7 linked regions of the Homo sapiens genome follow. The protein of the gene in region 3 purifies or fractionates together with the protein of the main gene of each other region. This does not show direct contact. Each region holds a gene or a part of one and is shown on either strand. Other genes may lie near its edges.

The links.
Region 1: the proteins of PLCD3 (region 3) and EIF3A purify together in Homo sapiens (affinity purification with mass spectrometry; one large-scale study listed by BioGRID and IntAct). This does not show direct contact.
Region 2: the proteins of PLCD3 (region 3) and NOS1AP purify together in Homo sapiens (affinity purification with mass spectrometry; one large-scale study listed by BioGRID and IntAct). This does not show direct contact.
Region 4: the proteins of PLCD3 (region 3) and CHD8 purify together in Homo sapiens (affinity purification with mass spectrometry; one large-scale study listed by BioGRID and IntAct). This does not show direct contact.
Region 5: the proteins of PLCD3 (region 3) and NAF1 purify together in Homo sapiens (affinity purification with mass spectrometry; one large-scale study listed by BioGRID and IntAct). This does not show direct contact.
Region 6: the proteins of PLCD3 (region 3) and SPEN purify together in Homo sapiens (affinity purification with mass spectrometry; one large-scale study listed by BioGRID and IntAct). This does not show direct contact.
Region 7: the proteins of PLCD3 (region 3) and GEMIN2 purify together in Homo sapiens (affinity purification with mass spectrometry; one large-scale study listed by BioGRID and IntAct). This does not show direct contact.

The regions. Positions count from the first base shown.
Region 1 is NC_000010.11:119,035,630-119,039,627, reverse strand, and holds part of EIF3A (eukaryotic translation initiation factor 3 subunit A), read left to right. Parts: intron 1-1,188; coding exon 1,189-1,390; intron 1,391-2,318; coding exon 2,319-2,509; intron 2,510-3,359; coding exon 3,360-3,589; 3' UTR 3,590-3,998. UniProt on the Homo sapiens protein: RNA-binding component of the eukaryotic translation initiation factor 3 (eIF-3) complex, which is required for several steps in the initiation of protein synthesis.
Region 2 is NC_000001.11:162,352,560-162,356,557, reverse strand, and holds part of NOS1AP (carboxyl-terminal PDZ ligand of neuronal nitric oxide synthase protein), read right to left. Parts: intron 1,372-3,998; coding exon 1,205-1,371; intron 1-1,204. UniProt on the Homo sapiens protein: Adapter protein involved in neuronal nitric-oxide (NO) synthesis regulation via its association with nNOS/NOS1. The complex formed with NOS1 and synapsins is necessary for specific NO and synapsin functions at a presynaptic level.
Region 3 is NC_000017.11:45,115,473-45,119,470, forward strand, and holds part of PLCD3 (1-phosphatidylinositol 4,5-bisphosphate phosphodiesterase delta-3), read right to left. Parts: intron 3,572-3,998; coding exon 3,343-3,571; intron 3,021-3,342; coding exon 2,819-3,020; intron 2,667-2,818; coding exon 2,522-2,666; intron 1,313-2,521; coding exon 1,160-1,312; intron 115-1,159; coding exon of another isoform or gene 85-114; exon of another isoform or gene 37-84; intron 19-36; coding exon 1-18. UniProt on the Homo sapiens protein: Hydrolyzes the phosphatidylinositol 4,5-bisphosphate (PIP2) to generate 2 second messenger molecules diacylglycerol (DAG) and inositol 1,4,5-trisphosphate (IP3).
Region 4 is NC_000014.9:21,389,873-21,393,870, forward strand, and holds part of CHD8 (chromodomain-helicase-DNA-binding protein 8), read right to left. Parts: coding exon 3,604-3,998; intron 3,383-3,603; coding exon 3,234-3,382; intron 2,938-3,233; coding exon 2,635-2,937; intron 2,382-2,634; exon of another isoform or gene 2,279-2,381; intron 2,075-2,278; coding exon 1,961-2,074; intron 1,935-1,960; exon of another isoform or gene 1,771-1,934; coding exon 1,591-1,770; exon of another isoform or gene 1,538-1,590; intron 1,192-1,537; coding exon 1,075-1,191; intron 1-1,074. UniProt on the Homo sapiens protein: ATP-dependent chromatin-remodeling factor, it slides nucleosomes along DNA; nucleosome sliding requires ATP. Acts as a transcription repressor by remodeling chromatin structure and recruiting histone H1 to target genes.
Region 5 is NC_000004.12:163,139,079-163,143,076, reverse strand, and holds part of NAF1 (H/ACA ribonucleoprotein complex non-core subunit NAF1), read left to right. Parts: intron 1-2,693; coding exon 2,694-2,854; intron 2,855-3,998. UniProt on the Homo sapiens protein: RNA-binding protein required for the maturation of box H/ACA snoRNPs complex and ribosome biogenesis.
Region 6 is NC_000001.11:15,874,763-15,878,760, reverse strand, and holds part of SPEN (msx2-interacting protein), read right to left. Parts: intron 2,560-3,998; coding exon 2,083-2,559; intron 1-2,082. UniProt on the Homo sapiens protein: May serve as a nuclear matrix platform that organizes and integrates transcriptional responses. In osteoblasts, supports transcription activation: synergizes with RUNX2 to enhance FGFR2-mediated activation of the osteocalcin FGF-responsive element (OCFRE).
Region 7 is NC_000014.9:39,120,754-39,124,751, reverse strand, and holds part of GEMIN2 (gem-associated protein 2), read right to left. Parts: intron 2,323-3,998; coding exon 2,209-2,322; intron 1-2,208. UniProt on the Homo sapiens protein: The SMN complex catalyzes the assembly of small nuclear ribonucleoproteins (snRNPs), the building blocks of the spliceosome, and thereby plays an important role in the splicing of cellular pre-mRNAs.

The sequences.
Region 1 (3,998 bases), on a different chromosome or scaffold from region 3:
CGTGATCTCAGATCACCGCAACCTCTGCCTCCTGGGCTCAAGAGATCCTACCACATCAGCCTCCTGAGTAGTAGACTATAGGTGCACACCACCAAGCCCAGCTAATTTTTGTATTTTTTTGTAGAGATGTGGTTTTGCCATGTTGCCCAGGCTGGTCTTGAACTCCTGGGCTCCAGGGATCCACCCTCCTCAGCCTCCCAAATTCCTGAGATTACAGGCATGAGCCACCACGCCTGGCCACTAGACAGCATTTTAGCACTACACTTGGAGGCCATTTTAAACAGTGAGGTCACCAGCAAATTTACATCTCTATATGTACTGTATATAAAATGTTCCTAGATTCATATATTCCATGCATAAGTGTGAGCCACTGTGCAGGGTTAAAGGATTTATTCATGATTAATGACTAGATAATGGGTGGCAAATGGTGGAGGACAGGAATATAAAAGGAAAGATTGTTTTTTGGATATGAAGGGCTTGAAAACGTTGCAAGGTATAAATACCTCAAAATTGGGACTCAGAGAAAACTCTTGAAGTTTCTGCTTAAATGAGTGATCTGTGTAACATCAGAACAGATACTATGCTGAAATCTGCGTGCAATAGGAAAAATTCTAAAATTTTCAGTGATACTTTTGTTTTATGGAACACTTAACACAGATCATTTAAGGTTTTTGGTATTTTTTTTTCTTTTCCTGTTTGTTTTTTGAGACAGTCTCATTCTGTCATCCAGGCTGGAGTACAGTGGCACTATCTTGGCTCACTGCAGCCTCTGCCTCCCAGGTTCAAGCAGTTCTCATGCCTCAGCCTCCTAAGTCAAGTAGCTAGGACTACAGGCGCACCACCACACCTGGCTAATTGTAGTTTTAGTAGCAACAGGGTTATTACCATGTTGGCCAGGCTGGTCTCGAATTCCTGACCTTAAGTGATCCACCTGGCTCGGTCTCCAAAAGTGCTGGGATTACAGGTGTGAGCCACCATGCCCGGCCCATTTTAAGTTTCTCATATAAGTTTAAGATACTGTTAATGATGTCTGTGCAGTGATGTACACAGCTTTAGTATTTTTTTAATCAGTGTCTTAAATTAGCATTTAGAATGATGATGAATTAATGCCAACGTCTATTCATGATTGCCAATCTGTTTCTTCTTTTAAAAATATTTTAAAAATGTTTTGCTTTTTCAAAAAAACAGGTGGATGGAGAGAGAAAGAAAAAGCCAGAGAGGAGAGCTGGGGTCCACCTCGAGAATCAAGGCCATCAGAAGAACGTGAATGGGACAGAGAAAAAGAAAGGGACAGAGATAATCAAGATCGGGAGGAGAATGACAAGGACCCTGAGAGAGAAAGGGACAGAGAGAGAGATGTGGATCGAGAGGATCGCTTCAGAAGACCTAGGTGTGATGCTCTAATTAAATTATTTGTAGAGGCCGGGCGCAGTGGCTCATGCCTGTAATCCCAGCACTTTGGGAGGGCGGATCACCTGAGTTCAGGAGTTCGAGAGCAGCCTGGCCAACATAGTGAAACCCCATCTCTACTAAAAAATACAAAATTAGCCGGGCGTGGTGGCGCATGCCTGTAATCCCAGCTACTCAGGAGGCTGAGGCAGGAGAATTGCTTGAACCCGGGAGGCAGAGGTTGTGGTGAGCCGAGATAGCGCCATTGCACTCCAGCCTGGGCAACAAGAGCAAAACTCCGTCTCAAAAAAAAAAAAAAAAAAAAAAAAAATTCCCTCTTAAAGTAAGAAAATGGAGGCCCAAACTTCGTGGCTGTCCAAAGGCTGTGTGACCCGTTGGGCATTGGAACCAGTCCAGCCATCTTTGTCAGTCCGTTGCTTTTACCCCTGTGGTTTAGGGCAGTCAGTTTTCTTGCCCTTAAATTATCAAAAGCCCTTTGATTTTATTAGTAGTAGAAGTTCTAGCTTGTTCCCGCTGCCAAAGTGTCCTTGTACTGACAAATGTAGACCAGCAGTGTTCGATGCAATTTTCTTCAAGGAAGAAAATGTGTCTGCTGGCCAGTATGGTAGTCAGCAGTCACATTTGGCAGCCAAGCACTTAGAATATATGGTTGATGGTCCTAAGGAAATATCTCCGTTTTACTTTAAATGTAAGTAACCACATATGGGTAGTGGCTAACGAGTGGGACGGCACAGATCTGGGTGTTCTCATTTGTTCTCCACGCCCCAGGCATCAGGTAAGGTCAGGTTATGAGTTTAAACTGTCTGTTATATTTGTAAACTCTAAGCCCCAGCTTGGACTGGATGTACTTATAATTATCCATTTGGTCTAACAGTAAGAACCTGACCTGTCATTGTAAATGGCTACAGGGATGAAGGTGGCTGGAGAAGAGGACCAGCTGAGGAATCTTCAAGCTGGAGAGACTCAAGTCGCCGGGACGATAGGGATAGGGATGACCGTCGCCGTGAGAGGGATGACCGGCGTGATCTAAGAGAAAGACGAGATCTAAGAGACGACAGGGACCGAAGAGGACCTCCACTCAGATCAGAACGTGAAGAAGGTATAGAGGTTACATACAACTGAAGTATTGGAGAACTGTCGTTTCTGGGGGGGGGGGGATTTGGGTTATTTAATTATATCATAAATTTGTATGAAGGCCAACAATAAGAGAGTTGATATTCTATTTAGAATTCATGATTTTCATACAGTTACTCAATGGTCATGTTGTAAAGTGCACTTATCTCTAAATTCAAAGTACAGTAGTAGACTAAATTGGATAGCAGGCAATATATATAAAGTTTACTTAATAAAAATGAAAAAAATTGTTATTTAAAAGCAGCTTCCTGGCAGATTAAGCACAAAGTAGAAACATTTTCTCTGAAATTGTAACAGAAGTTTATTCTGTTTTAAAATATATGTATTTTTCATTTTTAAAATCCTCATTTTTCTCTTGGTTTTTAAAAATTAATTTTCCATATGTCTTGACATCCTGTTATGAGAGAATTTTTCTCTCATAGCCATAACTTTAAAAACTCCTGTATTTTGTATGGTTAATTTGCTGTTAAAATTCTTCAAGAGCCAAAAATCCTTTCAGTTATAAAATTTTCATTCAGCCAGATTTTTGCCACCTTGTCTTACGGGTTTATACTAACTGTAGTCCTTCCCAGGCTAGTGGTTTCTGCCTGTTTTCAGATTTTGAGTTTTATCTGTACATTTGTATGTTAAAGATTGTCAGAAATTGTATGAGCTTTCATTATGATTTCTGTATTTAACAATACAGAATTTAACAGAATTTCTGTATTTAACAATGATTTCTGTATTTAACAATCTTTAGTACAGGAATTTTGAGTAATTTGAGCCAATAGAATATAGTACTAACTTAATTTTTTTTTTTTAATTAAACTTTTTAGTAAGTTCTTGGAGACGTGCTGATGACAGGAAAGATGACCGGGTGGAAGAGCGGGACCCTCCTCGTCGAGTTCCTCCCCCAGCTCTTTCAAGAGACCGAGAAAGAGACCGAGACCGAGAAAGAGAAGGTGAAAAAGAGAAGGCCTCATGGAGAGCTGAGAAAGATAGGGAATCTCTCCGTCGTACTAAAAATGAGACTGATGAAGATGGATGGACCACAGTACGACGTTAAGTCTCAAGATAATGGATTTAAACTGGTGTCTTAAATAGGTTTGATCACATTCAAGGATTATTATACTTGTGCTTCAACCAATCTAAATTGGATTCTTTAATGTTGTTTCACCATAACACAAAAAGCATGAACTTGTATTAATCCTATATAATAGATTGATCATGCACCATATCCACAGGAGGTTGGAAAAACCATGCCATTTTCTGGAATTTAAGGGTGTTGCATTATTTCATCAATCATTTGTTGACAAAAAAGAAAAACTAAAAAATAAATTTAAAATGTGACCCTTCAGGTATTGAGTAACACCTTTATCTTGGTATAGAACTGATACTTTTTTTTTGATTTTGAAATATCTGATAATAATTTGGAATGAAGTAAGGTTCTGTTAAAATATATTTGAAGACCCTTT
Region 2 (3,998 bases), on a different chromosome or scaffold from region 3:
AATCCTCTACTCTGCTGTGTCCTTAGGGCTCCCTCCTCCAGGGTCTGAGATGTTCCTTCTCCCTTGTTGGGAGAAGCGTGGAGCTGGGTCCTGGAGGAAGGGGCCATGTGAGGGGGCTACCTCCTGCCCTCCACTGCCTCTGGTGAGAACCATCGGCAAAGAAGTTTGGATCCTAAAATATATAATGATCTGGAGAGATCCTCTTAGATGAAAGAAGTTCCTGTGTCCTTCCCTCCTTTCCTTCTGTCTCCCTCTCCTGTGGACATTTTTACCAAGATGGCTTCTACGATTCATAGAATTCCATGGCAGGGAAAGACATTTTGTTTCTGGCAGTTCTGCTGTGGGGACTTCTTCAGACATACACAAGGAAGGCCCCCAGTGACACAGGGCTGTTTCCACTTGTAGAGGATAAACTGGTTCCAAAGGAAACGTCAGGCAGCTAGTTTAGAACTGAACTGCCCTCCAAACCTCCATGTGAGATAAGATATGAATGTTAAAGAGAGAGAGGTGCCCTGATATAAACCGCCTGGGAATCTAAGGGTAGAGCTATTGGTCAGTAATTTTGCTTCTGGGTTTAAAACATTTTTAATTAGCTTTGGCTTCAGGTTGGAATTTGATCTCAAGTTCTTAGTTTCTTAATTGGATCACATTAGGAACCCCCAGATGCCACAGTCATCTCACCTATATGATGTTAGGTTAGAGCTGATGAAGACTAAGGTGGTCTCTCAGTTTCTGACATCCAGTGGGCCAACTTCCAGACTCCAAAGTGCTATCCACAGGAATTACCAACGGTATACCACCGCTACTGCAGGCAGAGCGGGCCCAAACTGACTTTGCTCTACTAGCTAAGTCACAGGGGAGTCTGTGTGTGTGTGTGCCAGAGTGAGCCTTGCAAAATACTGTGCAAAGATGAGATGCTGTTAAGGGAAGAGGGTGCCAGGGAGTAGGAGACCAAATATTGGTGGGATTTGGGGAGGGCGATGTGTGTCAGGAATCAGCTCCACAGCATCCTGGCCTGCAGCAGCATCTAGTGTTCAGACCCTCTGGAAGTCAGACCTTCTGAAAGGCAATGAAGTGCGCTCTGGCACCGCCACTGTGCCATGGAGTGCCTCACTCGGAAGCTGAGCTGGCAGGGGCTAGGAAGTGACTGATGACCTGAGGGCACACGTGTGCAGATCACACAGATGGGCCATCTCTTGCCTACCTTGGAGCCTGTGTGAGAGCCTCCTTCCTTCCCTACAGCATCTAGATCAGTCACACCTCGGCTGAATTCCAGGACATCATTCCCTGGAAGTGGGACCTCCACCGCATCGATGTCAGTCTCCTCTGCAGTGGCCGTGGAGGCCCTCTCGGCTCCAGTGAGCTGGCGGCCTGCAGGAACAACAGGGGAGGGAGGGAAGAGAATGAAAACACCGAGAACAAAGTCCTCCTTTCCTAATACTTTAGCTTTCAGGCATGTTGAGCCTAGGGATGCCACTGGCTTTGTAACATTTTCACACATCTTTTCACTCAAGTACGTTAAAGTGCATTTCCAGCCCAGTAAGATGTTCTCATCTTAGTATCTTTTCAAAGTCCAGAAAAAAAGGCAATACTTCCTCAAGCCTGGATGTAAAAGTTTTGCCAGGTTCACAGGAATATATTGACAAGGTACACTGGAAGAAGGGGATGCTGATCATCTCCATGTCATCGCAGCTCAGGAACGGAAGCAGTCAAGGGAAAGGGCCCTGGCCCGGGGGTCCAGAAATGAGGAGGTTGGGCCTCCAATAAACTGCTGGACAAGAAGCAAATCCCCTCACTCTCTGGGCCATGTTTCTTTAACTACAGAATTAGAAGCTCAGTTAGATGGACAGGTAGGGTTCCATGACTGAGGAATAAGGCAGGGAGATGTGAGGCTGCATTTTAACACAGTATCAATCTCCCAGCCCTCAGAGCCTGATCCTCTCACCAACAGCAGAAGCCAGGAAGACGCCTGCAGGAAGTGGCACGGGGAGGAGGAGAGAGATGGGGTGGCTGCTTTTCCATGCTTCCTTATCTAATTTTTCTACTTCCCACATTTCTTCCTTTCCACTGAAGACAATGGCCATGTCTTTACTTAATATTTAACCACAGGCACAGCATACTGCTTAATACCAATGTATGAAAGCCCTGCTATTTCCTACTTATCTTCCTTCCTTGATCCTATTTCTGGGATTCTGTAAAAACATCTGACAACTCCTGGGCATTTCATAGGAAATATTTTCATTTTCTATATTTGCAATTAGGTTAATTACTGCCGTCTTTAAATAAGATTTCTCATGAGTTTTCAGAGACCACGCACCAATTATAAAATGGAACAGGTGGATGTAAAGCAGGAGACACAGAGCTGATGCCCCAGTGCTGAAGCTAGCCCAGGCAACCAGGCCTTGGCCATTTGAGTGCTTGCCTTGTAGAACAAATTGTTCTAAGAAGTTTTCCTATGCAAACCTACACAAGTCATCAAGGGAAACAAGCCTGGCATTTAGAAAGTAAACAGTGGGCTTGGTTTTCTTCCTGGCTACTCCAGGAGCTGAGGAGACAGTCCTGTGGAGGGCTGCAAAGGCGTTTAACAGAAAAGATGGTTCTGACTGCAGCTAGTGGGGGCAGGGAAGGGGAAGCTCTTCTGCCCCTTGGTCAGCCAGTAGGCGGGGAGCACAGGGAGCAGCCTGCTTTCTACCACAGCCTGCACCTGGAAGTGACCGTCTTGATGGCTGGGTGCTTAGCCTGAGAGATGGAGGGTCGGTAGGTGGGTGGTGCTGGGAACTAAGCGTTTGGTTCTCCATGCCTGTACAGGAAAAAGCAGGGTGAAATTTCTATCAGTGATCAGGAGAAGCTGGGCTACTGCAGTGTTCTGTGCACTTAGCACATGATATTGGATGTGCCTGGCCATCAGTCTTCCCTTACAGACTTGAGGCCAGGCTGTGTCTCATTCATGTTTCCTAAAAATGTTTCTCTGGCACAGAGAAAGTGTTCCATAAATACTGACAAAGTAAGTAATGTAGTGACAGGGTAGCAAAACAGGAGAACAGGCTGCAGGAGAAGGCTGCTTATCTACTTCCCATCCCTGGAGATCCTAATAACAAGAACTAAGAAGCCCCAGACACAGAGGGTTTGGACAGGGCCTCGCCAGAAGCCCAGGTGGAATCAGAAAATTTGTCAGGTTTGGCCGGGCGCGGGGGCAGGGGCAGAGAGGCACAGAGGCAGGAAGTCCACGGCATGTCAGGCAATGCAAGTGGTCCCGTAGGGAGGGACCTGACCAGGACGAGTCAGCATTTTATCTTGAGGGACTGAAAGCAAGTAATACCAAAACATTTTCATCCTTCAAAATTTCACTCTAGATATAGTATGGAGGATAGATCCAGCAGCAATGAGAGAAAGTGATACTCTAGGTGGAAAATATGAGGGCTTGAGTGAAGACAATGGCAATAACATGGAGAAGAGATGGATTCGAAGGATCGTCAGGGGGCAGAAAGCACAGGGTTTGCTTGTCTGTGGTGGGGGCGGGGGTGGGGATATGTGCAGGATGAGTCTTAAAATATCTGATTCAGGTGACTGAATGGAGAATGGCATCCTATAGGAAAAATCCAGGAGAAGCAGGATTGCAGGTAAGAAGATGAGTTCAGTTTTAAACCTGTTGACATTGTAAGAGTCTGTGTAACAGTCAAGTAGGGATACCTATTAGGCTGTTGGGTATGTTATGGACTGAATGTTGGTGTTCATATGTCGAAGCCTTAGCTCCCAATGTAATAGCACTTGGAGATGAGCTTTTGGGAGGTAATTAGATCATGAGAATGCAGTCCTCATGATGGGATTCATGCCCTTATAAGAAGCGATGTAGGAGATCCCTCTCTTTCCACCCTGTGAGGACACAGCAAAAAGGCAGCTGTTTGCGAACCAGAAGAGAGTTCTCACCAGGAACCAAATTGGCTGGCACCTTAATCTTGGACTTCTCAGCCTCCAAAACTGTCAGAAATAAATGTTGT
Region 3 (3,998 bases):
GACCCGGCCCTTCAGCTGCTGTGGGGGCCAACGTGGAGGATGAAGGGTTAGGCCTTCTCGCCCCTGTGGCAGCCAGTCAGTCAGTTATTCAACCACCGCCTTGTGAGGGGCTGGCTAGGGGTGGGAGGCAGGAAAGGAGACACAGAGATGAGCGATGTTTCTAATAGGAAAGAGTGGAGAATGGCCCGGGAGGCCATCAGGAAGGGATGCTTAATAAGGTCCCTCAACATCAGAATATACACAGCAGCCACTACAATGCACGCGACAGCTCAGGACTGAAAGGAAAGGGACCCTCTTCAAAGAAGATCTTACGTGGAAGAAGTGAGGCTACAACCTGGAATCACATGTCCTTTTTTGGTACCATTTAAAAGAGAAGACAGTACACATATGTACACAGGTAATGTGTGTGGGGAAATTCTTGAAGGACATGCAAGAAAGTTAGAGATGGTTACTTCTTGTGAAAGAGGACAGGTCAGTGGAGGGAGGGGAGCACTGCTCATCGCGTCCCTTAGTACAGCTCAGTTTTCTTTTACCATACGGGTGTGATTTTCACAGTAATAACAAAAATCACATCTCACACACACACGAGGGTGAGTCAACCCTGCCTGCATGTTGGGGATTGGAAGTAGGAGGAGAGTTTTCTCAAGGAGCCCGACAGGATAAATGTCTGGAGAGAGCCGAGGACGCGCTCTGGTGTCTGGGGGAGAGCAGGAGGCCGCCTCAGGCCCGAGAGTTGGGGAAGTGGATAAGGCCACAGGAAGAGGCGGCTGAAGTTGAGCTGAATTCTAAGCAGGTGACGCTTGGCAAGTGTGGATGGCCGAGAAGGGACTTCCAGGTGGAGAAAGTGTCAAGCGGGGCCTTGCAGGTGGGAATGGCAGAGCCTGCAGGACTCTACGGGCAGGGACACAGGGCCAGCAGGGCAAAGCCAGGTTACAGAAGAGGGTGTGTGTGTGGGGGGGTCTAGTCAAGAATGGAGAGCCAGAGGGCAGCAGAAGGACAAGACCAGGGGATGGCAGACCTCAGATGAACAGAGGAACAGAGAAAAGTTAAGGCAGCAAGAGGTGAGGGGTCCTGAGCCACAGAGGTGGCACGAGCAGTGCGGGGAGGCGGACTCCCACCAGACCTCCCTCCACCCAGGCTAGGGGCTGGGGGGCGTCACCTCTGGGGATGGCAGCTCCTCGGGATTTGGGGAGTCCAGCGCCTGTGTCACCAGCATGTCCCCCAGGATGGTGCAGAGGTGGCGGGCCATGGCAGCCTGCTGCTCCAGCCCGCAGTGGTTCTCCAGGGATAGGATGACAGGGTAAGGGGACAGCTGTGGGGGGAAGGGCAGCAGCTCAGAGCCACTCCCCTCCCTCTGCCAGTATCTCCCAACATCTGGCTCCCAGACCCTTCAGGACAGGCAGGCAAAGGCAGGGCTCTGGAGAACCCAGGGAAGCAGCAGACTGTCCAGGAGGCTGAGGGCGGCTGCAGGAATTATTTTTTTTTTCTTTGAGATGGAGTGTTGCTCTGTCGCCCATGCTGGAGTATAGTGGTGCAATCTCAGCTCACTACAATTCCATCTCCCGGGTTCAAGCGATTCTCCCTGCCTCAGCCTCCTAAGTAGCTGGGATTACAGGCGCCCGCCACCACACCCGGCTAATTTTTGTATTTTTAATAGAGATGAGGTTTCACCATGTTGGCCAGGCTGGTCTCAAACTCCTGACCTCAGGTGATCTGCCCACCTCAGCCTCCCAAAGTGCTGGGATTACAGGTGAGAGCCACCACGCCTGGCCGATTTTTTGTTGTTGTTGTCTATGCTTTGGTCTCTCTCCATCACCCAGGCTGAAGTGCAGTGGCACAGTCAGTCTCCCTGTGTTCTCCAGTCCTGGGCTCAAGTGATCCCCCCACCTCAGCCTCCTGAGTAACTCAGCCTACAGGCACATGCCCCCACACTCAGCTAATTTTTATTTTTGTTGAGACAGGATGTAGCTATTTGCTCAGGCTGGTCTGGAATTCCTGGCCTCAAGTGATCCTCGCGTCAGCCTCCCAGAGTGCTGGGAATACGGGTGTGAGCCACCGCACCTGGTCCCATAAATGCTTTTTACATGTGAATGACATTGACTATGTCAGTGATGTGAAAACTCTCCTCCCATCATTTGCTGATGGGAAGATTTGCACACTGTGACCAAAGTTGCAGTGTTTATGCAGATGCCACTGGTGAGCTTCTCTTACAGCTTATTTATTCTTTGGAAGTCATGATTAAAATGTCCTTCCCTCCCCCAAAGGTTTTCTTCTGGAAACTCTGTGATTTTTAGGACATTTCCCAAATATGAGAGAGGGAACATATTTCCCAAATATGAGGGTGGCATCTCATTCAGCTTTATGCCACCCCATTGGCCACTTATCCCAGCAGCACTTGGTGAATGAATGATTCTCTGGGCAAGGGTTTCCTCTGGAAGGACGGAGGGCAGCTGGCATGTGAGTGCGGACGGAGGTCATTGGGAAGGCTGTGGGGCTGGGGCTGGGCATCCCAGGGGCTCACCGTGAAGGCATGGTCGCGCACGGCTTGGACCACGTCCCGGAAGAGAATCTTGGAGGTGAGGGTATGGCCATGATAGATGACGGGCTCCCCTCCTGGCCCCTCCCAGCAGTCCAGCTCCACGCAGCGGCATCCCTGGGCAAAGGCCCTGTGTGTGGACAGATGGGTGGACGGGCAAGGTGTTGCCAGAGTGCCACAGAGCAGGGCAGCAGGCAGGCTGGGCCAGGAAGGCCCCAGGAAGCCAGCCCATGTCTCTCCCCAGGTGGGGCTCCCGGAAACATTCACCCCCTGCTACAGTACCTAACATAGGCCTCGGTGCTGCTGGGCCCCCCGATCTGGGAGTCAGTCAGATAGGTGTTGTGGGAGGAAGAGATGAAGTAGTGGGCAAGGGGCTGGTTCATGTCCTGGAACACACACGTGTGGGTGTTGTCCAAGGCAGCCCCCTCCGGCGACAACAGGTACATCATGAAGCCATCCAGTGTCATCAGCTCATGCTGCTTGGCTGCAGGGGTGGCAGGAGAGGGCATCAGGCCACATAGGGATCCCCCATGTCCAGCTTCCAATGCCCCCAAGGCCCACTCAGCTTAGGAATAATGACTAGACAATCTACTGACTAGACTCCATGTAAGTCATGCCACTTAACCTTCGACCAGACCCTGGGAGGAAGACAAACTGTTGTGCCATTTTACACATGTGGAAGCTGAGTCTGGAGGAGGTGAGGTAACCTGCCCGAGATGATGCCCGCGCCAGCCCGCAGCAGAACCCGCTTAGCTGGGAACACAGCCCTTTCAGGTGCCACGACCTGGCCGTGCCACCCCCCCCACCTGTCTCGTTGAGCTCATAGGTCTGAATGAGCTGCTGGGCGCGGGCCAGTGTGGCGCCCTCCTCGCCCTGGTCCTCCAGGAACTCCAGCAGCTCAGGGGCACTCAGCACGCGGTCCTCGCCCGAGTACTGATGGAAGATCTCCTCCAGCTCCGGCCGCTTCAGCAGCCGCCGCAGGAACTCCTCGATCTCAGCCCCCTCTAGACGGTCGTTGTTGGAGTGGTCACACTCCTGGGGAGCAGCAGGAGAAGCTCAGAGGAGGCAGACACTCCAGGAAACCTGGCCCCTTTGACCCATCTGTCATCTACCACATCTGAGAAGGCAATGGTCCCCATTTCACAGGTGGAAAAACAGAGTAAGACTTGTGACTCTAGCTCACACAGCTGGTAAATTACAGGGCAGGATTTTTTGGTTTGTTTTTTAGGTTTGTTTGTTTGTTTGGTCTTGCTCTGTTACCCAGGCTGGAGCGCAGTGGCATGATCATAGCTCACTGCAGCTTCCAACGCGTGATCTCAAGTGATCCTCCCACCTCAGCCTTCCAAATAGCTGGACAGCTGGGACCACTGGTGTGCACCACTGCACCTGGCTAATTTTTGTATTTTTTGTAGAGATGGGGTCTTGCTGTGTTGCCCAAGCTGATCTCAAACTCCTGGCTTCA
Region 4 (3,998 bases), on a different chromosome or scaffold from region 3:
TATATTGGGAAATCTCATGACTATTTTCCTTAGAAGACCTCTCCAAACACTTCTAAAATATATAGAATTAGAAAACTTAAGGCCGAGTGCGGTGGCTGAAGCCTGTAATCCCAGTACTTCAGAAGGCCAAGGCGGGTGGATTACTTGAGGCCAGGAGTTCCAGAGCAGCTTGGCCAACGTGGTGAAACCTCGTCCCTACTAAAAATACAAAGAATTAGCCTGGCCTGGTGGTGCACGCCTGCAATCCCAGCTACTTGAGAGGCTGGGCAGGAGAATGGCTTGAACCAGGGGAGGGAGAAGTTGCAGTGAGCTGAGATGGTGCCACTGCACTCCAGCTTGGGTGACAGAGTGAGACCATGTCTCAAAAAAACAGAAAACTTAAGAAATTGCTTTAAAACCCTCACTTTTCAGGATGTAAAAACTGAAGAGGTTAAAGGATTTGTCCAAAATCCCTTAGTTATTCAATAGAAGAACAGAGTAAGATCTGAATGTTCTCTCTAACCCATCTTACTAATTCTTAAATTTTCATATGCATCAAGTACTAAAGTTAGTTTTTAGAATGTTATGCTCTCCTAGAGATGAAGATACCACAGGACTGCAAAAATACTGATAAAAATACTCTGGGCCAGGTGCAGTGTGGCTCAGGCCTGTAATCCCAACACTTTGGGAGGCCGAGGCGGGTGGATCACGAGGTCAGGAGTTCAAGACCGGCCTGGCCAAGATGGTGAAACCCAATCTTTACTAAAAATACAAAAATTAGCCAGGCGCGGTGGCAGGTGCCTGTAATCCCAGCTACTCAGGAGGCTGATGCACGAGAATTGCTTGAACCCGGCGGGCGGAGGTTGCAGTAGGCCAAGATTGCGCCACTGCACGACAGCAGAGTGAGACTCCGTCTCAAAAAAAAAAAAAAAACCCCAGAAAACTCCGGTTTCCTTATTGGTGAACTCAAGATAATTCTTCACACAAACAAACATAGGAAAAAAGATAAATAACATTAGTCACAATCATCATTGAAAGACTTGTAATCTCACATCTAGTGTGGGAATAGAGTGGTAATGCTGCAATTTCTCTCACCTTTTTCCCATTTCTAGAGTTAGCTGTCTGTACTGGTTCCATTCCCAAACAGTTCAATTCTGCCTTATTATTTTTTTTACATCTTTGCCACTTCTGTTTTCTGCGATCCTCCATATACTGCAATAGAAAAAATCAGTTATCCTAGAGGAATAGAAATCTTCTCTGGAGTAATTATTAAAGTACTAGTGTCTTTTGTTTGATAATAAACACTTATTACATAGATAAAGGATTCATCCTAGTGGAAAACTGCCATTAAGTGGGATCTCTCCAAAAAATATTAGGTGGTTTATATAATAGTTCAATAGTAAATATTTGCCTAGCACTTAAAGTACTTCAACATTATTTTATTTTGGGCATCACAACAATTGTGAGGTTGGAAGACTGGGTATTATTAATTATTACCCTTATCTTGCAGATACAGAAACGATGATACAGTATGTCATGCTTTCTCTTTCTCATGCAGCTTAAATACCAAAGGAATGACTTTAAATCTTGCTGGATGGGACTGCCACTCACCGCTAGAAATCGGGGATCAACAGCAAACTCTGGATGACCCTGTAACCACATCTCCAGTTCAGCCCGGCGAGGGGCATCCTCACCCACCAGCAAAGTACCATCCACCTTATTGATGACAGGGATCCGGGTCTCCAGGTCCACATCAAGGTGATTAGGCTCTTCCATGCACTCCACCTCCAGCTGCAAACCCAGAATCCACCCCCATGAGCACATACTCTTCTTTGGGGGAGGGAGGGAGGGGGAGCAGGGCCAATGGTAGTCATGAAATGACTCTAGTATTTTCCATTCCCCCAGTCCCACTGCCTTCATCAATTATTGGGAATAAAAAGACAATCTAATCGTCAGGTTAAAGACTTTCTCTACCACTCACCTCTACTAGCTTCTTTCTGTTCCCCTTCTTCTTATGAAACAGTGGATGTCCATCTCCCATTACTCCATTCGCCATCAACTTGTGCTTCTGGAATGTTAACTTCAATCCTTCCTCCTAGGAAGACAACCCACCCACCCAAGACATCATATGGTACATGTTTTTCAAAGTAAAGATTAAGCTTTGAGGGATGTGGGCTATAGGTCATCCTCTTGCCCAATGATGGTGAGAAGGAAGGCCATCTGACTAAAGGGTAAAATTAGAAATACAAGAAAACATACACACTTTTTCCTTAGAAAGATTTCACTTCTTCACCTAGTGCCCCTCAGCATTTACGAGAAAGAGTTTATTTCAACAACACCCAAGTTAGGGTAAAACTCCCTACCTGGTGTCTCCGTATTAGCATGGCAACTCATCACAGGGGCAAAATCCTGCTATTCCTAAGCATACTAATTTAAGAAACTTTTGTTGAATATTAATAGGATTAATAATCAATAGGGTTCAATAAGGAAAACAACCAGGAAAAATGATTCTTCCTAAATGGATCTTTGTAAGCTCTGTTTTCTCATTTTTAAAATTAGCTAACCAAATGAGTTTAGTAACCTATTAGTAAAATTAGTTACAGCAAGGATTCCAGCCTCCTTCCCCACTTCCCAATGCCCAAATGCTGAGCTTACATCTTTGATTTGAACTGTAAACTCCTTTTCATCCATGCCTCGGCGAAGTTTGGTGAACTGGGCTGCCGCTGTGCTGACTGCAGATGCTTCCTCCTCTGCCATGGAAGCTGCACTACTACTTCGTGGTGTGGGGACTGGAGAGTCACCATATTCTCCAGGAGTCAATGAGGGACTGTCTAGCAAGTGGTTGCCTGGCCCCAAAATTCCTCCTGTTACCATTTCCTGGCTCCTACGGCTAGAAGGCCACTTCCCTGAGAGTACAGCCTGGCAGACGAGGTCAATACGGTTTATCAGGACACGATCCTGAATGGGGAAAGAAAGAAATACCATTTTAAGAGTCTGAGTACTAGCTGTGTGATCCTGTGATACTCAATAGTGCCATCACTACCAGGATGGGTAAAAATCATAAGGCAGAAAAGAGGAAGTTAATACTATTAAGATTCCTAAGTCAACTGGGAAGTTTCCTGGAAAAAAAAAAAAAAACTTGCAGCAATAAACACAATTTTAAAAATCCAGAACCATATGTTCCTTTTTCCCCGGATATACTGTTACACTGTATTTCTGGACTCTACATGTCCAGGGATGAGGCTGTTTGTTACCTTGGGCCACTCAGAGGCTCTTTGTCTTTCCTGCAGTAGCAGAAGCTCAGGGGTCATTTGTTCTCCATCTTCATTTGGGAATCCATCTTGGGACATAGTGAGGGACAGGAGACTCTCTTCATCATAGAGCTTTGAGCGGGACTGGTCAGCTGGTAAGAGAGCCCATAGAATGTGTGAGAAAAGATGGAAGAATAATGTCATATGGTAATGGTATTATATGGGCTTTGAATAAAGGCCCAAAGAATGGCACTCTTTTGACATTTTATCAAATCAAAATCCAAATCTCTCTCAAGAGGATGCATTTAGAAAAGGGAAAGAGAAGAGAGGGGGAAATAGGGAAGGGGGCCAACAGCCTGTCACATGCACTCACTTAGCTTCTCTTCCTTCTCATCCTCACTCTCATCAGTGCTGGAGCTGGAGCTGGATGAGGATGAGGAAGAAGAAGAAGATGGTGACAGCTTGCTCAAGTCCAGCTCAGAGTCCGAATCATCCTCATCCTCCAGTTTGACTGGTGGAACACTCCGGGAAACCAGAGGGGTAGTATCAGAGGGGGATACTCGCATCTCATAGTCTTGTGGGGTTGGTCGGCTCCTGGCCACCACCTCGTGCTCTAGCTTTAAAGTCAGACTCTCCAGACTGGGGACCTGGGTAGCTGTCTCCTCGGGTGACTTTTCAACAGGAGCATCTGGGCGCAGGGGCAGTGGTGAGGCAGTGCGTGAGGTATACTGCTGGTGCAGCAGTGGAGTAGAGCAGCGTGACAAGGAT
Region 5 (3,998 bases), on a different chromosome or scaffold from region 3:
AAGAAAGCTGCTTGCCCACCTCATAGTAAAGGTCTCAGGTGCTACTTTTCCAAATTCAGTTTCTTATACTCTCCTTACAATCTATTACTTCCTTTGCTTTTATCTTGAATCAGGTAGTATGGAAGTTCCAGAATCCCCTAAGTTGGGTGGAATGACCAAGAAGGGATATGGGTGCCTCCTATGGAGCTGTATGAGGAGAAGTGGGCCGGCCTGAGCCTTGCTGTGTCTTAAGTTGCTCTTTACAGTTTAGCTCTCAGGTGTTAGTCAATCTAAACTCTACACTCAGAGGCTAATGGTTATTTAAAATATTGTTAAATTCCTCTTTTCTACTCTGGATTAGCCAAATTGCTTATGTGAACTTGGTCAAGTTTTCCTGTAACATACCTATTAGTATTGGCTCATGCCACATACTGTCTATTGTATGGCTTCCTGTTATCTACTGCCTGTGATGTTGTTTTACTTAAAACTTTATAATGATTTCATTATAGTTGTGGCTCATAAACACTTCAGAACCTAGGAACAGTCAACTAAAATACTATGCTTTGCTTTTGTCCAAGAATTTTGAATGTCACTTATATTTTAGTTCAAACCATACTGCACAGACCTGAAGTTGGCAAGGAATTTTTCCACTGAAATTGTTTTTCACACTTAGGAAATGGATTCATGCTATCTAGGAAACAAATCCCTGGGAAACAGTCTGTGTACCAGGTTGCAAACGATGATTATTTTACCTTGTATTAATGGATACACAGGAAACTTAAAAGATATTTTTAAATCTCTGACCAAATGAAGAATTGGGTTTGTGTATATGTGAGAGAATTAAACTTGTGAATTGTTTTTAAGACAATTTTAAGTGAAAGTAAGACTACAATAATATATGTCATGTAGGCCAGTAAGAGTGGTGCTGAGTGCACCTCTTCTGTCCTTCACAGTTCTTACTGGACGAGGTCTACTGGATTTATCTAAACCTTTTCAAAGCAGATGTCTTGCTATTTTCTTAAAGTTTTTTGCTTTTACACTTTTTTAAAGCTTTAAATTTGTGATGCTATTAGTGTTATTTCATAATACATTGGCATTTTAATAGTTTTTAATGTCACTACTTCTTTTTAGAGTACACATATCTTCAGAATGGTGGTGCCCTGATAGGTGAGCTGTTTTACGCCTTAATGAAAATTAATGAAAGATTCAGTGCTGTACTGAAATCATAAAATGTGAAGAGCATTTACTATCAAAAATCAAGAACTGAGGATGTGATAAAACAGCCATGTTCAATGCAGTTGGTATAAATTGGTCCAAGCTATTTAGAAAGCTATTTAGTAATTTCCATTAAAACTTTTATGCCTTAGTGTTAATTATCGTACTTTCAGCTTCAATACCTCCACTCCTTACAAATCAATTTTTAGGAAGTCTGAAGTATAGTGATTTATATATGTTTATCATGGCATCATGTATTATGTTGAACAAATTGGAAGCTGCCTAAATGTCCTACAATAAGAAAGAAGTTAAGTAAGTTGTCCTGAGTCTGTAAAGGGGTGTTTTATGATAGCTAAAATTATACTTACAAAGAATATAACATGGAACAACTTTAGGTTTTTAAAAGGGGGCAGTATACAAAACTACAGTATGGTCTTAAAGAAAAAAATAACGTATTATAGAAAAAAGACTGGAAAAATCTATACTGGCATTGATCATGGTCTTATCTCTATAATATACATATATTATCTCGCTTTTGTCCCCCAGGCTGTAGTGCGATGGCACAATCTCGGTTCACTGCAACCTCTGCCTCCTGGGTTGAAGTGATTCTCTTGCCTCAGCCCCTGAGTGGCTGGGATTACAGGTGCCTGCCACCACACCCGGCTAATTTTTGTATTTTTAGTAGAGACAGAGTTTCACTATGTTGGCCAGGCTGGTCTTGAACCCCTGACCTCAGGTGATCCGCCCGCCTCACCTCCTAAAGTGCTGGGATTACAGGCGTGAGCCACTGCGCCCAGCCAGAAAATATATTTTTTAATTCACGTATTTTGAGAAGAAAGTACAATTTGAAACCAAGAAGTTTCCTTTCATTATTCTTAAAACGTTTTCAGAAGTAAAATATGTGGTTCTGCTAAAAGCAGTTCTTTTAGTTAAATGTTAAAGGCTGCACCATCTTTGTGTTTTTTAAACATAAATAACTTCTACTTTATTAGTTGTTAAATTAGAAAAAGTCTGTAATTTTACAAAATTCCTAACACTGTGGAAACAGCAAAAGTGATTTAACTCCTATTGAAGTCAGAAGCTTGCTTTTATATTTCCCATCTGATGATTCCAAATGTATACAGTTTTCTCAAAAGTTACCAATTATAATCCTTTTCTGTGTACTTTACAAGTTAAATGAGCAATAATTTAAAAAAATCATAATTTGCATCGAGTTGGTACCATCAAAATGATTTGAATTTGGTGAGGAACAAACTTGTTACTATTGTTTCACATTCATAGAAGGGAAATCTGGAATGAGCGAGTGCATTTTAATCAATATATGAAGACTGAATATGTAAAAATGACATAAATATAACTAAAAAATTATTTTATTGCCCTAACACTGACAAAATTACCTTGTTCTGGCAATTATCAGTGGGATTTTTAAAAGAAAACACTGCTGACTTTTCAAATAGTTATTTTACATGTTAAAAGAGGCCTTTATGTTTCTATTACAGATATTCGAGATATTTGGACCTGTTGCACATCCATTTTATGTGTTACGGTTTAATTCTTCAGATCACATTGAGAGTAAAGGTATTAAAATAAAGGAGACTATGTATTTTGCTCCATCAATGAAAGATTTCACTCAATATATATTCACAGAAAAACTAAAACAGTAAGTACTTTACCGGCATGTTGTTCTTCACTTACCTAACGTTTATATTTTAAGAATAATTCTCAGTGATGTAATTTCTTACAGTTATATTGTGTGTGTCTTGCAAAGAGTTCATTTATCTTCCTAATAATATCTTTGAAGCCTACAATTTATTTTCAGATTTTGTACGTAGAATTCATATCTTTTGTAAAAAATGAGATGATCAGCCATTAAGAGCACATTTGAGCCATGTACACTTTCTGATTCTAGTTCAGTGTTTTTTCCATTATGTACATTCTTTAATGTACTTACTATTTTAGTATTAGTACTAATATTATTATCATTTCTTAATAACTTTTTTTTCAGTTAAGTAAAATTCTCTTTGGATTCTATTTAGGGGCCTTGCTCTTCAATAAAACTTTAAAATAGTTTTCAAGAGAAAAAAAATGAGTGTTATCTCTTTATTTTGCTTATAAATTTTAAGTTTGTAGAAGAGACAACTAACACGTGTCCCTGAAAAATTGTGTAGAAAGTTACGGTGTATGGAGTTGACCTAACCAACAAACCAGTGCTCTCCATTTTGTCTATCAATAATGCTAAGTGATTTCTGTGGCATGTGACCGCAATATTTTTTTATATTTGTGCTCCCATTGGTTGAATATTTTTCAAATGTTAGCTGTTGCCAGCTGTTAGTTGTAGAGCTGTTTGTATCAGCTAAACTTGTTATAATTATGTTATTTAATTTTTTATATCAGCAAATAGCATATGAATTTAAGATTTTTTTTTAATAAAAATAACTTGAATGCTTTCGAATGATGTAATGAATATGAGCCACTAAAAATATTTTCAAATTGGGAGTGGAAGAAAAGACTGCCAAAGACTGGGGGAAGGTTAAATCCAGAAAGACTTTGCACTCAGTTTGACACAGAAGTTCCTTTTAGTTCTAGCTCTTCTTTTATTGGAGACTTAAAACCTAGGCGATACATTTTTATAGATGTTGTTTTTGCAGGAAAACAAAGGAACTTTGGTCACTGAGTAACTTTGGTATTATGTCAAAGGTACCAACCCCAGTTGCATGGCATAAGAAGATTACTTATACCACTTACATGTTAAATCAAGTCTCAAGTCACCAAATTTCATTTATTTCAGAGATGAAAATTTTGAT
Region 6 (3,998 bases), on a different chromosome or scaffold from region 3:
TGGGATTACAGGCGTGAGTGAGCCACACGCCCAGTGCCTCAACACCTTTTCAATAAGTTTTGATCCAGTGGAATGCAGATGCAGCTTTTTAATGAGGTAGGTTTATGGAAAATGACTAAAACTTGAGCATTTTAGACAATTCTATGCAGAAAAAAAAGTGGAACAAGATTTTATAATTAGTTTATAGGGTTCAAATGAATTTCATCAATCATTTATCTAGACAGCACACCAAATAAAATCAAAAGAAGTTAAGAGTTTTCATCCATGTCACACGGCTTGAAAGCTGGGCATAGAACGTAACTTTCATGACTTTCTAAACTAGGTGCTTGTTTCATTTTAATATGCAAATCTTCCAGAATGTTTGAATTATATCTAGATAGGCAGAGGGATAAACAAAATGTTTTCATGTATTATTTTGAATAAGAAAATTCAGGAAGCCTAAAAACAGACATTCAACTACATGACCATTTGCTTAAATTAATTTTAAGCAGGCAAAAGAAAAGTAATCTGAGCCTTTTAATCAGGTCAAAGAATTTGACTGTAAATTTTAAATATATACCACCTAAATTGAAAAGCAGGACATGTGGGATTAACAAATTGAATAGCAGCATTTTTTTTAACATATACTAGGTATCAAAGTAAGCATTTTACATTAAGTGTTCATTTTAATTTTCACAATAACTTTATTAAGGTCCTTATTAAAAATGAGAAAGCTTGGCCAGGCGCAGTAGCTCACACTGGTAATCCCAACACTCTGGGAGGCCAAGGCAGGTGAATCACCTGAGGTCAGGAGTTAGAGACCAGCCTGGCCAACACGGTAAAACCCCGTTTCTACTAAAAATACAAAAATTGGCCTGGCATGGTGATGGGTGCCTGTAATCTCAGCTACATGGGAAGCTGAGGCAGAAGACTCACTTGAACCCAGGAGGTGGAGGGTGCTGTGAGCCAAGATCACGCCATTGCACTCCAGCCTAGGTGACAAGAGCGAGACTCCATCTCAAAAAAAAAAAAAAAAAAAAAAAGGGAAAGCTGAGACCTGAAGAACATAAATAACTTATCCTAGATTACTTAAAGGATAATCTATACCACATACCCAGATCTGTGATTTCAAAATCCATATAACTAGGTTTGAAGCTAAGTTTCTTATTAAGATTACCCTCAACTTACTATTTTCGCTTTTCAAATAAAACTTTTTGGCTGGGCACTCTGGCTCATGCCTGTAATCCCAGCAATTTGGGAGGATGAGGTGGGCAAATCACTTGAGGTCAGGAGTTCAAGAACAGCCTGGCCAACATGGCAAAACCTCATCTTTACTAAATACAAAATTAGCCAGGCGTGGTTGCGCACGTTTGTAATCCCAGCTACTTGGGAGGCTGAGGCAGGAGGACTGCTGGAACCCAGAAGGCAGAGGTTGCCGTGAGCCAAGGCTACACCACTGCACTCCAGCCTTGGTGACACAGTGAGACTGTCTTTAAAATATATATATATATTTGTAGAAAGAAATTCTCAACTAGTGAGATCAGTTTACAGAACAGTAAAGTTACAACCTGCATTCAAAGGAAGCTTTTCTACTTGAGTTTATAAATTGGCTACCACCCTGATGTTAAAATTAGCTAAAATTTGTTCATAAGTTGATCTAGTCATTGATAATAAATGTGTCAACAATATTATATTTCACCAATACATATTTAACCAAACAGCTTTTACAAATCTTCAATCAAAATAATAGAAATAAATTGGTATTATACACCTACAAAATTAAAAATGTTAAAGAGATACCATATTTTCAGTGTCACAAGATTTGCCTTGCACAGCTAGAGTCACCACCTCCCTTCCACTTTGATCATTTAATTTTAATACTGTGCATCTGGAGGATGAAACAGAACTTTGCAAATCATCACTTAACTTCGAGTACTTAGAACAGTTAATTCAATGGCCACATGCCAGTTTCTTTACTGATTACATACATATATGATCCAAGATTACTTTAAAAAATAATACTATGCTGAAACCATTCCCACTGATTGTTGAGAATTTGTTTAAAGCTAGCTCATCTGTTATAACAAAAGGCTGTTAACCTACCTGTCACTGCTGGTACTACTGCTGCTGCTGATTGAATCACTACTGGAGGATCTACTTCTAGAGCCGCTGCCGCTAGGGGACCTTGTGGGTCTAGATGCTTGGCTAGCCAGTCTCTGAGGAGACTGATTTCTAGACTGGGATGAATGTGGTGACCGACTCCTGCTGTGCTGGTAATTCCGCTCTGGCCTTCTGCCTCGTACCTCCCGGGTAATATCATCCCTGTAGATATCCCTGTGTACCACACTGGGCAGTGTAAACTGCTCGCGAGCCCTAGGTTCATATCGGGGGTCATGAGCATCAAAGCGATTTGGACTTCGACTCCGAGAAGCGTAATAGAGCCCATGTTGTAAAGTCCGCTCTCGAGGATCTCTATAGTAATCCTGATCGTAATGTCTTGTCCGATCAAATCCTCCCGTCCCCCGTTCATGGTGTCCATAGGCACTATGTTCATAAGCACGCTCCCTGTTATCTGAAGCCCTGCATTTAGGAGGGGGAAAAATATTTAATCAGAAAGGAGCAAGCAAAACTAAAAGCAAGTCATGCAAACATTCACTTCAGCATTGTCTTTGTCTTTGCAACTGGTCATTTTCTAAACAGCATTAACCTACTTAATAAGCAAACGCTAACAAGCTTAACATTTTACTTGACTCCAAAAATTATTTTCACAGCTGAGCAATCATTGTTTTCATTGTATATTGGGCTTTCATGACTAGTGTTCTGCAGCTCACTTGCTTACTTTATTAGAGATTTTCTGACTTGCATACATAAATATACAATCTCCTTTTCATGTTAACGGAACAAGAGACTATTTTAATAATATGAAAGTTTTTACACTTTCATCTGATTAAAGTATATACCAAATTTTATTTACTCACAAATTTCTTTTAGGCCACATTTCCATGCTATGTTTTAACTTAGACATGAAAGCCCTGCTGCAGCGCATGTCTCAACAATAGGAAGGACTTTCAAGAAGTCCAGAAAAAATTTTCTAAGTTTAACTTTTTTTCATTAAGTTTTGACTGCTTGGATAGTTATAAAAAATTACTGGACTACATAAACTAGACTACATAGACTGCACAGCGGTACCCAATTACATTTAATAATAAAAATAGAATCTCAAAAAAAAACCACTTCAAGTATCAAAATATTGGGTTACCACATGCTACTCTATGTGAATTTAAATAAAAATAAAAATTATTTACTCCTGTGCTATCAAATTCCAAATGACTTTAAAAATGCCTATTCCATGATTCAATTTCTTAATGTATAAACTCAATGGTTGTAGGAAATATGTTCTTTTGGCTTTTAGCTATACTCAAATTGCCTGTGATGAAATTAGGTAACATTAGGAACTATAAGATATTCTAAGGTCGCTATTAGCAAAATAGCTTAACTTAAACAATCATTTAGTAGGATGTGAATACCTGTCAACCTAAAAAGTACAAAACACGTTGCATGTACGATTACACACATGCAATTATGTGTTAATATTAAAAACTAGTTATAATCCTATAAAGAAATCGTAAGTTCTCTACTTTTGTAGAGAACTAGAACTCAGCTCCTGAGTTCCTAAAAGACCATTTCACTGGAGTTTCTCTTCAACCCATCTCTGGATCTATCTTCTATCAAAAGGGATTAAGGAATCATGAAACATAAAGAATTAGAATCTCTCCAATGAAGAATATCTGGCAAAATCTTATAACAATTAATACCAGATCCCCAGTACATGCTTAGATTCCAGGTCTCTCCACTAATATTCTTTTCACCCATCATTTCACTTAGTAGCAACCCCACCTTCCTAGGCTTAGTTTAGCTTTTTTTGCTGCTATTGTGAAAAACAACTGGCATGATAAACATTCTATATCTTTCCTACTTAAATGTATTAAATGAGTTTCTCTTTTATTTACTACAGTTCT
Region 7 (3,998 bases), on a different chromosome or scaffold from region 3:
ACCCAGGCTGGAGTGTAGTGGCGCGATCTTGGCTCACTGCAACCTCTGCTTCCTGGGCTCAGGTGATGCTCCCACCTCAGCCTCACGAGTAGCTAGGACCACAGGTGCATGTCAACACGCCCAGCTAATTTTTTTGTATTTTTGGTAGAGATGAGGTTTTGCCATGTTGCCCAGGTTGGTCTGGAACTCCTGAGCTCAAGTGATCTACCTGCCAGAGCCTCCCAAAGTGCTGTGATTACAGGCATGAGCCACCTCACCTGGTCTGAATTTGTAAATTTTTAAATAAAGTATGATTTTAGTAAGTAAAATGTTAAAGACTAAAAATTTTTTACATGATAGTACTTGAAAAAACTAACTTATTAAGTATATCCAATAAAACTGTAACATTGATAAGATGACATTAATATGTTGTATACACCATTTCAAAATCTTCAGCTAAAGCTAATATTTTCAAGAATTAAGGACACTTGAATTAGAATGACATTTTTAAAACCTAATTTGATTCAATTTTTAAAAGTCTACTTTGGAGTCTGAGGCTGTGATTGCTAATTATGAAAATACCACTGATTTGTGAGAAACTTAAGAGGATATACATTAAACGCTTACTTCCTTAAGGGTTTTTTTTAACATGGTGTATTTTACTTGTATGTATTCTCTGAAAATAAGCTAAATAAGTAAGTTTTAATTCTTTATAAATTAAAAACCATTTTTGGCTAGCCATGATAGCTCATGCCTATAATCCCAGCAGGAGGATTGCCTGAGCCCAGGAGTTTCAGGCCAACCTTGCAACATGGTGAAAACTTCTCTCTACAAAAAAATTTTTTTAAAAAATTAAAAAACTTATCGCTACAAAAAATTTAAAAATTAGCTGGGTGTGGTGGTGGGTGCCTGCTGCCCCTGGTATGTTGAAGGCTGACGTGGGAGGATTGCTTGAGCCCAGGAGGTTGAAGCTGTAATGAGCTATGAGTGCACTACTGCACTCCAGCCTGGATGACGGAAGAAGACCCTGTCTCAAAAAAAAAAAAAAAAAAAAAAAAAAAAAATATATATATATATATATATATAGCTATTTTTGAAATGTAGCATATGTTAAGGATATCATCCAAAAGATCAATTGGTTATATAGAAAGAGTACCAAATTAACTTCCCTAAGATTTGAGTCTATTTATACTCCTGTACCACGTCTAAGAGTGCTTGTTTCCCCAGCTCTTGTCAATATGGTGTATCAAACTTTCTTGGCCAATATGTTACCTGAAAAATAGCACCTTGGCATAGTTATGTTATACTTCTATTACAAGTGATTTTTGGCATCTTGTCATATAAGAATAATTTTATTTCCTTTCTGTGAGGTATCTATATCCTTTGGCTATTTTTTCTTGGGCAGGGGAGGGGTGATTCTTGGTCTTTTTATTGATTCTTGGGGCTTTTTACATTTTTAGGAAAAATTAGTTTTAAATGTGAAAAACACAATGTGGCACCATATAGCAAATAATAAATACCTGTTGAACTGAAAAGAACTACATGCTATAGGGAGTAAGCGCTAATGCAGAGGCATGCACTGGATTCTCAAGGAACACCTGCAAACTTGGGGGCAGGTAAATCCTGAAGGACAAGGAGTTGTCTACATAACTTATGATTACAGCCACATGAATTTTAAAGATATCCTCAACATTTCATCTTTAGAATATGTGATTTATTTTTTACAGGCCCATGAAGTGATAGATGTGATTATGCATTTTAAAGCATCTAATTGTGTCGATTTCCATTTTTTCCCTGGCTACTCATAACACTGTTTGCCTGATGCCTCATCATTTAAAAAAACTATGAATCTTATCCAACTCATAAAATGATTACCAAGCCAAACATAAGGGATATGAAGCCAAACTAAAAAAAGTCACAGTAAATTGTTTCAGAAACTAAGCTGTTTTGTTAGGTTGAAGAGCTAATAAACTAAGTCTGGGTTGGCAAACATTTTCTATCAAGAGTCAGACAGCAAATATTTTAGGCTTTGCAGGCCACATAAAGTCTCAGCCACATATTATTTGTTTCTTTTTTACTCTTTCAAAACCTAAAAACAATCCTTAGCTCATGGATATAAAAAAGGCCATGAACTGGACTTGGCCCAGGGTAGAGTTTGCTGACCCCTTATATTAAGTGGTGCACCAAAATTAAAATGCTTTTTGTTCTGTTTATCCACACAGCCCTTACTTGTACATAATCTATTCCAGGACTTTCATTTGTGGCTGGTCCAACAGCCCCGTCAGCACATAACTTTTCACCCAGACAAAATTTCTTCCAGCCTTCTTCATCTTCAGATTTTGGCTAAAAGAAAAAAAAAAAAACTGATTTATTCCTGTGTATTAATTTTTACACTGAACAGTAAAAAAAAAGAAGTTAAGTCCTTCCATATTCCCATTACCGCAACCCAAAGATACGGAGCCAGTTATGGGGAGAATCTCTGCCCCCAAATTTGTATGTTAAAACCTTAAACTCCAGTACCTCAGAATGTGACTGTATTTGGAGACAGGGCCTTTAAAGAAGTGATTAATTTAAATTGAGGCCATTAGGGTGAGCCGTAATCCAATCTTACTAGTGTCCTTATAAGAGGAAATTTGGATTCACAAAGAGACACCAGGGACTCCCACACACAGAGGAAAGACCACGTGAGAAAACAGGGAGAAGGTGGCCCTATGCAAGCCAAGGAGAAAAGCCTCAGAAGAGACCAACCTTAGGCCGGGTGCGGTGGTTCACGCCTGTAATCCCAGCACTTTGGGAGGCCGAGGCAGGCGATCACATGAAGTCAGGAGTTCAAGACCAGCCTGGCCAACATGGCAAAACCCCACCTCTACTAAAAATACAAAAAAAAAAAAAATTAGCCGGATGTGGTGGTGCACACCTGTAATCCCAGCTACCCAGAGGCTGAGGCAGGAGAATCACTCGAGCCTGGGAGGCGGAGGCTGCAGTGAGCAGAGATTGCGTCATTGCACTCTAGCCTGGGCAACAAGAGCGAAACTCTGCCTCAAAAAACAAACAAACAAACAAAAAGAGACCAACCTTGCTGCCACCTTGTTCTTTGACTTTCAGCCTTCAAGACTGAGAAAATAAATACATTTCTGTTGTTTAATCCACCTAGTCTGTTATGGCAGCCCTGACAAACATAGTGCCTAAGTGGCTACACAATATGTGGGACATGTTGTTTTTCCTTATTATTACATTTTTTGAGACAGGGTCTTGCTCTGTCGCCCAAGTTGGAGTGCAGAGGTGTGATTACAGTTCATTGCAGCCTGAATCTCGGGCTCAAATAATTCTGCCACCTCAGCCTCTTGAGTAGCTGGGACTACAGGCATGTGCCACCATGCCTGATAATTTTTAAATTTTTTTTGTAGAGATAGTTGTCTCACTATGTTGCCCAGGCTGGTCTCAAACTCCTGGCCTCAAGCAATTCTTCTGCTTTGGCTTCCCAAAGTGCTGGGATTACAAGTGTGAGCCACTGTGCCCAGCCAAGATGTGTTTAGTTTGGACAAGACTTTAGTGGACACTGACAGACAATGGTGTGTCCAAAAGAGGATGATAAAGACAGAAATAAGTATGGGGGAAAAAATGCACCAAGAACACTTAATAGAATGAAGGATATTTATCCCATGTAAAGAGACATGATTACATATTTCACATATTTGAAGGGTTGTCCAGTCAAAGAAGAAACAGATCTACTCATGCTGCCAGACAGAAAAAGCAGGACGCAGGACTATTTGGGAGAAGCATTCAGCTCAATATAACCTCCTTAACAAAATAACCTTTGTTTGTACATATCACCTTGTATATTACTTTGCATAGGTGCATTTTCCCCCTAGGGATAAGTAGCTTTCATTAAATCCTTAGGATGAATCACCTGAGGTCAGGAGTTCGAGACTAGCCTGGAAATATGGTGAAACCCCGTCTCTACTAAAAATACAAAAATTAGCTGGGTGTGGTGGCAGGCACCTGTAATCCCAGCTACT